3 linked regions of the Homo sapiens genome follow. The protein of the gene in region 3 purifies or fractionates together with the protein of the main gene of each other region. This does not show direct contact. Each region holds a gene or a part of one and is shown on either strand. Other genes may lie near its edges.

Evidence for each region.
Region 1: the proteins of LYRM1 (region 3) and TNFAIP2 fractionate together in Homo sapiens (co-fractionation; one large-scale study listed by BioGRID). This does not show direct contact.
Region 2: the proteins of LYRM1 (region 3) and DENND6A fractionate together in Homo sapiens (co-fractionation; one large-scale study listed by BioGRID). This does not show direct contact.

Annotation. Positions count from the first base shown.
Region 1 is NC_000014.9:103,121,924-103,126,287, reverse strand, and holds the start of TNFAIP2 (tumor necrosis factor alpha-induced protein 2), read right to left. Parts: upstream 2,828-4,364; 5' UTR 2,337-2,827; intron 1,914-2,336; exon of another isoform or gene 1,782-1,913; intron 1-1,781. UniProt on the Homo sapiens protein: May play a role as a mediator of inflammation and angiogenesis.
Region 2 is NC_000003.12:57,690,235-57,694,610, forward strand, and holds the start of DENND6A (protein DENND6A), read right to left. Parts: upstream 2,844-4,376; 5' UTR 2,785-2,843; coding exon 2,548-2,784; intron 1-2,547.
Region 3 is NC_000016.10:20,910,708-20,914,318, forward strand, and holds part of LYRM1 (LYR motif-containing protein 1), read left to right. Parts: intron 1-475; exon of another isoform or gene 476-557; intron 558-3,611. UniProt on the Homo sapiens protein: May promote cell proliferation and inhibition of apoptosis of preadipocytes.

The sequences.
Region 1 (4,364 bases), on a different chromosome or scaffold from region 3:
TCAGTGGTCACCATGGACCGGCCCTGGCTCCCAGGCTGGACACACAGCTATGCTGGCTGCATTGAGTACACTCAGTCTGTTTCACCCATTCAGCCACCGGGGCTCTGCTCATCTCCTGGCCCAGATGAGCACCAACAACTGTGCTTCCTCCCTGGCCACGAGCATCTCACCATCTACAGCTCCCCTTCCAATACTTCACAGCCCCAGAAGCAAGGAAGAGGCTGGGGACGCCAAGCCCGCCACACAGAGGGGGACTTTCACTTTACTTGGGCAAATCCTTCCCTGCCAGCCCACCCTCTGGGCAGGAAGCAGGCAATGGACACCTCCCTGGATCCCACGGGACCCTAGGGAAGAGGCGGGGCATGGGCTCTGTCCCTTTGGACAGAGCAGGAACAGAGGTCCAGAAAGGTCTGGGACATGCCGGGGTCTAGAACACCAGAACCGGCCTGAGACTGGAACCCAGCCTCCTCCTGCCCAGACCCAGCCCCTCTGCCATCTTGTCCAGTTCTGATCCAGCGGTGGGGTCACAGAAACACAGCTGCTCCAGCTGGGCCATGAAAGGGGCAGAGCCTGACCAGGATCTACAGAAGCCACAGTGGGTGGGACCTCAGACAGCCTTTCACACATCACTGGGGCAAGGGGCTCAGCAAGTCACAGGGCGGCCTGAAGTCACACAGCAACTCGGGTCCAGAACCCAGGCTTCCTGGCTCCCACCCCCTCCCAAATGGGATCGTAGCATCATCACAAAGGCTTCCAGTTTCTGCAGCCTTCCTGGGTGCCCATCCCATCTCTTCCTTTCTCTCATCTGGAAGGGTGTTATTTCGGCTTAAACTGTCCCTATAGTCAATAGCTTGGGCTTGGAACTCAGGCCACCCGGTCCCAGAGCCCAGCTTTCCCCTGCCTCCACATCCCCAGCTATCCTGCAAGCTACATCCAGAGAGGCAAGACCCGAGCTTCCCCAGAGTCCCTGCCCAGCACCTGACCATTGTCAGAGCAAGGCCAGGTCCACTGGAGAAGAGCATGGCTGATCTGAAAGGGGGAAGCAGGCAGGGGCTGGGCCTCCCCAAGAACTGGGGTGACCTGTAACCTTGATGCCACCTGTCTGCCCCACCCCAAGACTAAATGCATGCAGCCTTGTCTCATGTATCATGGTAACTTCAAGTGACCCCTGAAACAGCCCTGCAAGGCAGGCAGGATGATCCACCATCCAGAAGGAGAAACTGAGGCTGAGTAGGAGGTGTTTGCCCCAAGCACAGCAGCCATGGAGGCTCAGACTGGGCCCATCCGACTCTTCCCATGGCCCCGCTGCCTCCACCAGCCCCACTACCCTGTCCCCATCCTGGAGGGGCTTGGCCAGAGCCACCTGAGGGACAGGAAGCCTGGGCTCCTCCCACCCCCAGCCCCTGCCATGCTCACCCAGTGCCCTGGGCAGAGTCCCACACTCCTGGATGGCACTGGCCTCCCTAGTGCCATTTGGGTTGAGCATTCCACTCCAGGACCAAGAGGGGCATGCTCCAGGGAGCCCCAGGGGCAAGGCCATGGGGCACCTCTGCTCCCCACCCGGTGCCCCAACTTCGCTTCCCAGCCCCTCTCAGGTGCATGCCTAGCACCCGCGGGAGCTGGTCTGTCTGGCAGGGCCACTCAGCCCCACCCTGGGTGCCCAGGCCCCACCTCTGCCATTCTCCTGGGGTGGGGGAGGGTGGCCCTTACCAGCAATGCTCCCTGCCAGCCTCACCTCAGCCTTCCCTGTCCCACCCCACATGTACTAGGCTCTGTCCCACCTCCAGGCACAGCTCCCGCAGGACCCCCACAGCATCACCGCCTTCTCCCCTCTGTGACACGAAACCCAGAGCGCCTGAAGGTCCTGCTGCAGCCCCCTGGGCCTCGCCCCAGGTCTCCGCTCTCCGAGGCAGCTGGTGCCATGGAAAGAGAAACGCTTTCGGTGTGGGCTCAGCACACTTCTCACTAGTGTGTGGACTGCACACCTCCTTCCTTCACAAGCCGCCGTTTCCCCGTCTTTGAAAAGGGGATGAGGACCCCCACCCCACAGTGCTGCTGAGGGGATGTGGCCAAACCGCACAGCCAAGTGCTGGGCGCCTAGCTGGGCCTCAGTGGGGGTGAGTCTCCTGTGTCCTGAGTCTGTCCTGCAGGCAGCAGCGAGCCGGTGCAGCCAGAAAGGAAGAAGGGGAGGAGGGGCGTTCCTTTGAGCCTTGCCGCTGGTTGGGCCCACTGAGGCAGGAAGGGGCCTGCTGGGAGGCTCGTAGAGGGGTCACAGCCAGTGGCTCAACAGCGCCCCCCAGCCTCCTGCTGCCCGGCCTCTCCTCAGGTCCACTGACCTGGCTCGCCTTCCCCGTCAGGGCTGATGTCCACACACCTCCCGGGAGCTCGCTGGGCCCGGCTCCTTCAGTCCTGGGCAGGATGTGGAAGGCGCACCCATCCCCCGATGAGGACACCCGGGCACGGGCGAGGAAGTGACTCGGCCTGTGTCGCCCGGCCGGGGAGTCACGCCGGACCTGGGGCCTTTCTGCTGTAATGGAGGGGAGACCCCTGCGCCTGCCCCAGCCCCGCCCTCCCTGCCTCTGGCAGGCCCGGGCCCTCAGCCAGCCTTGGCCCCTCTGCGCCCGGACGCGCGGACGCTGGGCGCGCCAGGGCCTCAGTTTCCCTGGAAGCGTCCAGCCCCCTCCTGTCCCCGCCGCGGCGACAGGCTCTTTCCTCGGGGAATCCGGCCTGGCCTCGGGGTAGGGGCGGGCGAGAAGCCGCGCGGAGCGGCGGGGAATGGACGTGTGGAAGCGGAGGTCACTTACCGTGTCCCGGCCTGGCCGCCACTGTCCTGGCCCGGGTTCCGCAAGGCCTGAAATAGTCGCAGAGTCAGCCCCGCCCCGCCCGCCCCTCCTTCCCCGCCCCGCCGCAACCGCGGAAAACCCGCGGGCGGAGGCCAAGGCCCAGCGCGGCCCGGCTGTGTCCCTGCGTCCCAGGGGCTGGGCGCGCCCGGCCTGCCCAGCGGGGGATGCGGGGCGCTGTCACTTCCTCCCAGCAGCCGGGCAGGGGCGGGGGGCTGGCCGCGCGTCGCATGGTATGTGGAGTTCGGGGGACGGCACGGGGACGACGGGGTTGTCAGGCGCGGAGCCATTGTCCGACGACGGCTCCTGATAGGCCGCCTGGATGGGGCGCGCTTGGCCGCGTTCCCGCGTCACACACCGGCTCCAGCTGCGGGAGAGCCCGTCCCACCCCAACTCCCCAGCCGCCCCTCTGAAGTGTTCCGGTGTCACCGTGGCCACAAGGAGGCAGGGGACGGGGGCTTCCTGAAGGAGGCCCCCTAAGGGGAAGGGGGCTACAAGGCTGGCCAGAGTGCTGGCCGCGCGGCTGTGCACAGGGCCTTGAGCCCCTCCGGTCGTCAAGCCTTGCTTGAAATGCGTAAATGCGGAAAGGTGAAGTGGCTGACCCGGCTCACACCACTTTAAGTAGCGGAGTGGGGTTCCTAGCCAGGCCTATGGGACTCCCACTGGAGCCTTTCCCCCTCTGGGGCTGGGGCTGGACCCACAGGCTGCCGGAGCAGGCAGAAGGGGAGGGGCCCAAGGCCCAGACTCCAGGGCCTCGTCTGGATCATCAACCCGGCTTTGCCCATTCAGCGCAGGCCTCCGTTTCCAGGCCTGTCTCCCCATCCACACCGTCTCTCAGGGTTTGTTTTGGGAGATGTGGGGGTGGGGCATGTGGGGAGGATGGAAAGGGGCTGTGAAGGGAACCCACTGGAGATTCACTTCCTTCCTTATTTCACACTCTAGGCTAGGAATTCCTGCCCTCTGGAAAGGACCCAGACATTTAGGAATTTCCCGCTGGGCAGGGGCTTCCCTCCTGCCTCACTGGGGCCTCTGCTCCTCCCCTCTTTTGTTTGGCCTCTTTCCCCGCCCCCTGATCACTCCGCCACCCCTTCTGCAGCCTAGTAACAGGTCTTCCAGGACCAGGGGGGCCAGCGGAGTGGGGGCGGCTGTGGGTTCAGGTGCCCTGGGAACTGAGAACTTCCTCTTCCAGAGTGCTGGCCAAGCGCCAGGTTTGCACTCGGATTGCCATCCATCATCCTGTCTCTGGGGAACCTGTGGGGGAGCGGATGCGGGAGGCCGCCAGGATGCAGGATGGGGCGTTAAGGCTGCCAACCCCACCCCTTCTCTCCTAGGACTCCAGGGATGACATTTTTCAGATGAGTCCACAGAGCCGCGGTGTCCCGGGGCTGGGAGGGTCCTTCCACCGGCACCGCGCAGATGGAGTTCATCCACACAGGGGCGATGAGGATACGGGCTGAGGGGCCCTGGCCGGTGGCTGCCTTCACGGCTGGCTGCTGTGGCCTCATTGTGCAATCCCCACAAGCC
Region 2 (4,376 bases), on a different chromosome or scaffold from region 3:
GTGGCTCATGCCTGTAATCCCAGCACTTTGGGAGGCTGAGGTGGGCAGATCACACTGTCAGGAGATCGAGACCATCCTGGCTAACACGGTGAAACCCCGTCTCTATTAAAAATACAAAAAATTAGCCGGGCGTGGTGCGGGTGCCTGTAGTCCCAGCAACTTGGGAGGCTGAGGCAGGAGAATGGCGTGAACCTGGGAGGCGGAGCTTGCAGGGAGGCGGAGCTTGCAGGGAGACGAGATTGCCCCACTGCACTCCAGCCTGGGCAACAGAGCAAGACTCTCTCTCTCAAAAAACAAAAATTAGCTGGGCATGGTGACATGCACCTGTAGTCCCAGCTACTTGGCAGGCTGAGGCAGGAGAATCACTTGAACCTGGGAGGTGGAGGTTGCAGTGAGCCGAAATTACACCACTGCACTCCAGCCTGGCTGACAAAGTTAGACTCTGTCTTTAAAAAAAAAAAAAAAAATCAGAGAAGGGGAAGAAGGCAGTTTGCAGGGAACATGAAATATAAACAAGATCTGCACACAAAAAAAGAGCAAAACCAAGAGGTTTCCCTGGTTCTGAACTCTAGCCATTTTCTGAAGCCCTACTAGGTTTATGTCTTAAATAGCTGGAAACCACATATATGGAACCACATACATGATTTCATCTTACTCAGCCTTTTCCTAGTGGAAAATTCACAATGTTCATATTTTTAAAAGATCCAGGAAGCAAAAGGTTAAGAACTCCTGACCTAGAAAAAACTCTATACAGTGGCATACACTATGGAAAATGAAATTCAAAATAAGTCCTTTAATAATTCACATTTTTGCAGCATCTCAAATATATTTTCTGTTTATTTGGTCAAAAAACATATTCACGTTATAAAGAATGTCCCAAATAATGAGAATCCAAAAGAATCTCCTTTAGCTATTTAAAAACACAATCAACTACAACAACCCATTCTTATGCTTTCTGGTTAAATTGTATCTTGCTGTACATATAACTTCAGGTTAACATGGCAAGGTGAATAATAAATGGCTTATAAATCTCTTACTCAAAATCTTTGGGAACTGTTTTTCTTACTTTAATAAGATAAAGAATTGCTCACATATTCACCTATTCTATCAAAAGTATTTATAGAATGCCACTAGGTGCCAGGCACTGCATTTGGCCTTATCAGCTACTATGATTAATTCTTGGTTCTCCTCTAAATTATTGCCTCAATCTACAAATACAGATTAGAGCACATCCTATTTGTATGCTCCACAACTAACATAATGCCTGGTTCTTAGTGGAAACTTAATGTCGCTGAACTGTGTTATAATAAAACATCCAGAAGGCAGGCCGAATACGAAAGCAGTAGCTTCGCATTAAGAAAACTACCCCTAGCCAATTTTCTTAGTCAACCAGGCCACTACAGTATTAATGAAATCGAAATCTGTCACCAATACCAAAAAAAAAAAAAAAAAAAAAAAACCAAAACCAAAACGTCTAAACAAACGCCCTTCTGATAACAATTTCCTTGGACACATGAAAGCAAGCAATTCCTTATGCTAAAAAGACCTTCAACAACGTCAAGAATAGATGTTTCTAAAGCCTTTCGGTAAGGGGCCATACATAAGAATGGAAAAGTTGACTGATTGACAAGCAAATGATGTTCCCTATATTCATCTTGACAGTAGTTTCACACCAACTGTTCCAGAGGCAACATAAAAAAAAATAACAGAAATGAGGCCGGGCACGGTGGCTCACGCATGTAATCCCACCACTTTGGAAGGCCTAGGCGGGCAGACCACCTGAGTCGGGAGTTCGAGACCAGCCTTACCAAAATGGAGAAACCCCGTCTCTATTAAAAATACAAAATTAGCCGGGCATGGTCGCATGCCTGTAACCCCAGCTACTCGGGAGGCTGAGGCAGGAGAATTGCCTGAATCCGGGAGGCAGAGGTTGCGGTGAGCCAAGATCGCGCCATTGCACTCCAGCCTGAGCAACAAGAGCAAAAACTCCGTCTCAAAAAAAAAAAAAAAAAAAAACAGAAATGAGGCACAAAAGGAGGAAAGGGAGAAAATGCGTGCTGAGATAAGCATTTCGACTCAGGCTGAGGGAAACGCTCAAACAGTTACTGCAAATGACTAAAACAATCTGAGCCTTAAAACTTGGTTGTGCAAGTTCGGCTACTAGAGTTCATCATCTGTTATGGGCATTGTTCTTGAAAAAGTACCAAACAAACATCCTGCCTGCGGGCTTCTCCGGGTGGGTGCTACTAACCCTTTTAGTTAATTCTGTGACTCTGCGTTTAAAAGAAATAAAGAAAGAACAGGATGAACATCAACAAGTATTTAGGAGGGGCCTAGAGAGAACTTTTCACCCCTAGCCGCAGCCCAAGATCCTCCCACGGGAAGTGCCGTAGGACCGCAGCCCGAAAGAGCGCGGGAGGGGAGACTGGCCACGCCCGGATGCGCCGCGGACAGGGTCCTGGCCGGTCAGCCCGCGGGCCGCTGGCTTTGCTGCAGCCGCCCCGGCGCAGGGGAGGAGCGCCGAGAAAGGGCGGGGCCGGGCCTCACCTCCACGGCCTGGCCCAGCTCCAGGTCGAAGCCCACCACACACACGCAGTGCAGCCAGGCGGAGAAGCTGTCCCAGCGCAGCAGGCCCCGGCCACGGCCATCGTCCTCTTCATCGTCCTCTGGCGCGCCTCCCGCCGCCACAAGGGCCGGCGCCTCGCGGCCCTCGGCCCCTGCCACCGCTTCGTCCAACGGCCTTCGAGAGCCGGGCCCCAAGCCCGCAGGGCCCCTCAAAGCCATCGGCCGCCCCCTGACCGTTCGCGCCGCCTCCACAGCGGACCGCGCCGCAGAGCGCGCTTGCCTCCGCGCAGGCGCAGACGCTGCTGTCGCAGCCGCTGGGGACCCACTCAGTCCGGGCGGGGCTGCGGGTCACGTGACCCTGGGAGCGGACGTGGGGACGTCACGCTGCCGCTTGTCTCGGATTGTGAAGCCGGTCCTGGCTTCCTTGTCTAAAAGCTCTTTGGGACTGAAATGGCTGTTTATGAATCCTTGTCAACCTCGTTCGCAGTCAACGACCAGGGAATAAATTATTCGTGGAATGACACAGTTCATAATTATTATAAGGTATTATTAAATTATGAAAGCGTAGGCCGGGCGCGGTGGTTCACACCTGTAATCACAGCATTTTGGGAGGCCGATGCGGGCGGATCATCAGGTCAGGAGTTCGAGACCAGCCTGACCAACATGGTGAAACCCCGTCTCTACTAAAAATACGAAAAAATTAGCCAGGCGTGGTGGAGCGCGCCTGTGATCCCAGCTACTCAGGAGGCTGAGGCAGGAGAATCGCTTGAACCCAGGAGGTTACAGTTAGCTGAGATTGCGCCACTGTATTCTGTCTACCCTGGGCGACAGAGCGAGATTCCGTCTCAAAAAAATAAAAATAAAATATATGAACGCATAATGGTGACGGTGGCTAACATTGAACGCTTACTTTGTGCCAGTTGATATGCCAAGTACAAGTGCGAATACTTACAAATATTACCTTATTGAATCTTCACATAATCGCAAATAAGTAGACTATTTATTTCTTTTTACAGATAAGGAAATGGAGGTCCTGGAGGTTACATGACTAGCCCAACAAGTATGACAACTCCGATATCGGCTTGCGGTTCACTCATTCAGTTTGCTGATTCAGAGATCTGTGCATTCACTCACCTGTTCCTTCTCCAGCAAGGCCTCCCCACCCTACCACCTCCTCCTTTCTTAGTTTGGCTGTCTGTGACTCACTCAACACACATCCCCAGACCTTTCTGGAACTCCAGGTTGGGCAGATTGGCCTCCACAGCAACCTGTGGATCTCTGAACACTGGGGCAAGGGCCTGGTCTCAAGCAGCTTCGTATTCTGAGATCAGTTTTTACTGAGTATTGGACCAGCCAGGATACTAACTAGTATTTATTCAGCACCTACTATGTTGAGTATAAATAGCATAGTAAAAGTAGGAAACACACAATAATACCTCAACAGAAAAATGAGTAAACCAGCGAGGTGTCACGCCTGTAGTCCCAGGTTCTTGGGAAGCTGAGGCCGGCTAAGTTCAAGGAGGATCGCTTGAGCAGGAGTTCCAGGCTGCAGCGCGCTATGATCGCGCCTGCGAACAGCCATTGCACTCCAGCCTGGGCAACAGAGCGCGACTGTGTCTCTAAAAAACAACGCAAAACAAAAAACACGGCAGAACTTAAGCATTTTGCTGCACTGCCCAGTGAAATCCATTCCATTTGACAAATACTGCCCTCTTAACATTCTTAGAATTTTTTTTTGGAGCAAGTGTTAGCGTCCCTGTTTTCAAGGAGGTGGTCAAGTATGCACAGACATCAGTAGTGACGTTTGCTGG
Region 3 (3,611 bases):
AAGCTGCAGTGAGCCATGATCATGCCACTGTACTCCAGCCTGGGTGACAGAGCGAGACCCTGCCTCTAAAAAAAAAAACAACAACAACAAAAAACCTTGCTGCTGATTGAATATGCCTGACCTTGGTCACTTTTCTCAAGTGTCTTGCAGTCAAGGAAGTTCCGTCTGTTAATGACAGGGAAGTGAAGCAATCATTAAGAGATGTTAGTTACAGACTCCCTGTACCTCACAGGAACTGACTCATGTATTTTCATATGAAACCATGGAGTTTTAGGGAGAGCCAGAAACTCAGAAACCTGTTTCCTTACCAGGAAAAATGTCATCATCTCATCTGGGTTTTTATTACAATAAGCCACAAAGCATGATGTTCTCTCTTGGTTTTTATGAATTCCTTGTAAGCATTTTTTTCTGTGCAGCCTCATAGACTCAGAATTGGTATTGAATATAACTTTGGTCCTTTTAACCTTTGAATTAGGTGAAGTAGTATTTGAAGCTTTTCATCAGTTGGCTCATTCTTTACTCAAGAATAAACCTCAAGAAACGTCATCAGGGTCAGAGTAAGTGCTCATATTGGAAAGAGAAATTCTCTGTAAGTTGAATTCCTTGCAAGTACTTAGAATTTTGAGGTAAACGTGCCCACTTCCAGCTCCAATCTGCATTCTTTAGCTGCTCAAATTCTCATAATTTCAGGACTACCCTAAAGCATATTATCTCCACCTCTTATGCCTTTCCCTCCATAAGTTGAAAATGGATCATGTTCCCAAAAGCAAGCAGTGAGCAGCTTACTTCCCGATCCTGATGAGCCTGTTAGAGGAAAACCCAGAACTCAGAATGAGGTGTCCAGCTGCCTGGCCTTGCTACTTACTCACCAAATCTGCCCTCCTTGTCTTCCCACCCTGTCTTCTGGTTCAAGGCTGTACAATATTCATTGTTCTAATTCTGACTAATCAGAATCTTCCAGTAGTGGGACTTTTTTTTTTCTAGCTTCCCTGAATTTATTTTAGATATAGAAATGTAAATAGTTATGAAAAAAGGAGAGGGGGGGCTGAAATACTTTGTTTTTTCATTTTTATAGAGATAGGGTCTCTTTATATTGCCCAGGCTGGTCCTGAACTCCTGGCCTCAAATGATCCTTCCATCTCAGCCTCCCAAAGTACTGGGATTATAGGAATGAGCCACTGGAGCCAGCCTGAAGTTTTTAAATAAGTTGTTGGGGTTTGCTTGTTTGTTTTTGAGATGGGGTCTCACTCTGTCACCCAGGCTGGAGTGCAGGGGCTCAGTCTTGGCTTGTAGTGCAATCTCAGCTTACTTTAGCCTCCCGGGCTCATACGATCCTCCCACCTCAGCCTCCCAAGTAGCTAGGACTACAGGCACATGCCATCAGCCCTGTCCAATTTTTGTATTTTTTTACAAAATGAATGTTTTGTTAAAAACATGTTACCGAGGTGGGTCTCAAACTCCAGAGCTTAAGTGACCTGCCTGTCCCAGCCTCCCAAAGTGCTGGGATTACAGGCATGAGCCACTGCACGTGGCCTTAAATAAATTTTTGTTGGTATTTTTGGGTTTTTTTTGTTTTTTTTGAGATGGAGTCTCACTCTGTCACCCAGGCTAGAGTGCAGTGGCGCAATCTCGGCTCACTGCCAGCTCCGCCTCCCGGGTTCACGCCATTCTCCTGCCTCAGCCTCCCGATTAGCTGGGACAGGCGCCCACCACCATGCCCGGCTAATTTTTTTTTGTGTATTTTTAGTAGAGACGGGGTTTCACCTTGTTAGCCAGGATGGTCTTGATCTCCTGACTTTGTCATCTGCCTGTCTTGGCTTCCCAAAGTGCTGGGATTACAGGCATGAGCCACCGCGCCCAGCCGGCCTTAAATAATTTTTTTTAAAAAGGAAACACCTAATATCCATCAGCAAAATAGATAGTACATTGGGATATCTTCATACAGCAGGCTGAATTGCAGCACTGAGAATATATGAACCAGAGCCATGTGTAACAACATGGATGAATCTTATGAATGTTATGGGCAAATAAAGCAAATTGCAGAACTTACCTATAAACTTTTTAAACTTGCAAAGCAGGCGGGGTGCGGTGGCTCATGCCTGTAATCCCAGCACTTTGGGAGGCTGAGGCAGGTGGATCATCTGAGGTCAGGAGCTCGAGACCAGCCTGACCAACATGGTGAAACCCCATCTCTACTAAAAATACGAAATTAGCCAGGCGTGATGGTGCGCACCTGTAATCCCAGCTAATTGGGAGGCTGAGTCAGGATAATCACTTGAACCTGGGAGGCGGAGGTTGCAGTGAGCCGAGATTGCGCCATTGCACTCCAGCCTGGGCAACAAAAGCGAAACTCTGTCTCAAAAATAATAATAATAATAATAATAATAATAATTAAATAAATAAATAAAACTTGCAAAGCAATACTATAAATGTTATGTGTAAAGATATGCACAATAAACAATAAATTCAGCATAGTGATTCCTTCTAGGAGAGGAAGGGAAATGTTATTTGGAAGGGGTACAGTGGGGGTTTCTACTGGATACATAATTTATTCTTTAAGGTCTGTTGTAACTGTATGGCTATTATATTGGTCTCAGTATCTTTTCTTTGTTTTTTTTTTTTTTTTGGAGACAGAGTCACTGTTGCCCAGGCTGGAATACAGTGGCGTGATCTTGGCACACTGCAACCTTCACCTCCTGGGTTCAGGTGATTCTCGTGCCTCAGCCTCCAAATAGCTGGGATTACAGGTGGTTGCCACCACACCTGGCTAATTTTTGTATTTTTAGTAGAGACTGGGTTTCACCATGTTGCCCAGGCTGGTCTTGAACTCCTTACCTCAAGTGATCCACCTGCCTCGGCCTCCCAAACTGCTGGGATTACAGGCATGAGCCACTGTACCTGGCCTCTATATCTTTTTGTATCTGAAATATTTTGTAATAAGAATTTAAAGATACTGGGAATTATGCTTTTGAAAAATACAATTAGCTTTACAGAATATACCTACGTCCGTTCTCTCTTGGCCACATCTTCTGAAATTAAAACTGATGTTTGAGACTAAAAACCCAGAGGGGCCTTGAGATCTTCAGTCATCAGAAAGATTTTTTTTTTTTCTTTTTTTTGAGACAGAGTCTCGCTCTGTCACCCAGGCTGGAGTGCAGTGGCCGGATCTCAGCTTACTGCAAGCTCCGCCTCCCGGGTTCATACCATTCTCCTGCCTCAGCCTTCTGAGTAGCTGGGACGATAGGCACTCACCACAACGCCCAGCTAATTTTTTGTATTTTTAGTAGAGACGGGGTTTCACCGTGTTAGCCAGGATGGTCTCAATCTCCTGACCTCGTGATCCACCCACCTCAGCCTCCCAAAGTGCTGGGATAACAGGCATGAGCCACTGCACCCGGCCAGTCATCAGAAAGATTTTTAATTATACTTATTGGACAAGAAAGTAGACCAACGATTTTGAGAAATATTTCCAAAAAGGTTGTGACAGACTAAAAGAGAGGTTGCAACCTGACAACCTCTGGGTGGAACTGAGCCTACAGACTCATTTTGTTTGGCCTGTACAGTCGTCACTTTTTTTTTTTTTTTTTTTTTTCTTTTTGGAGACGGAGTTT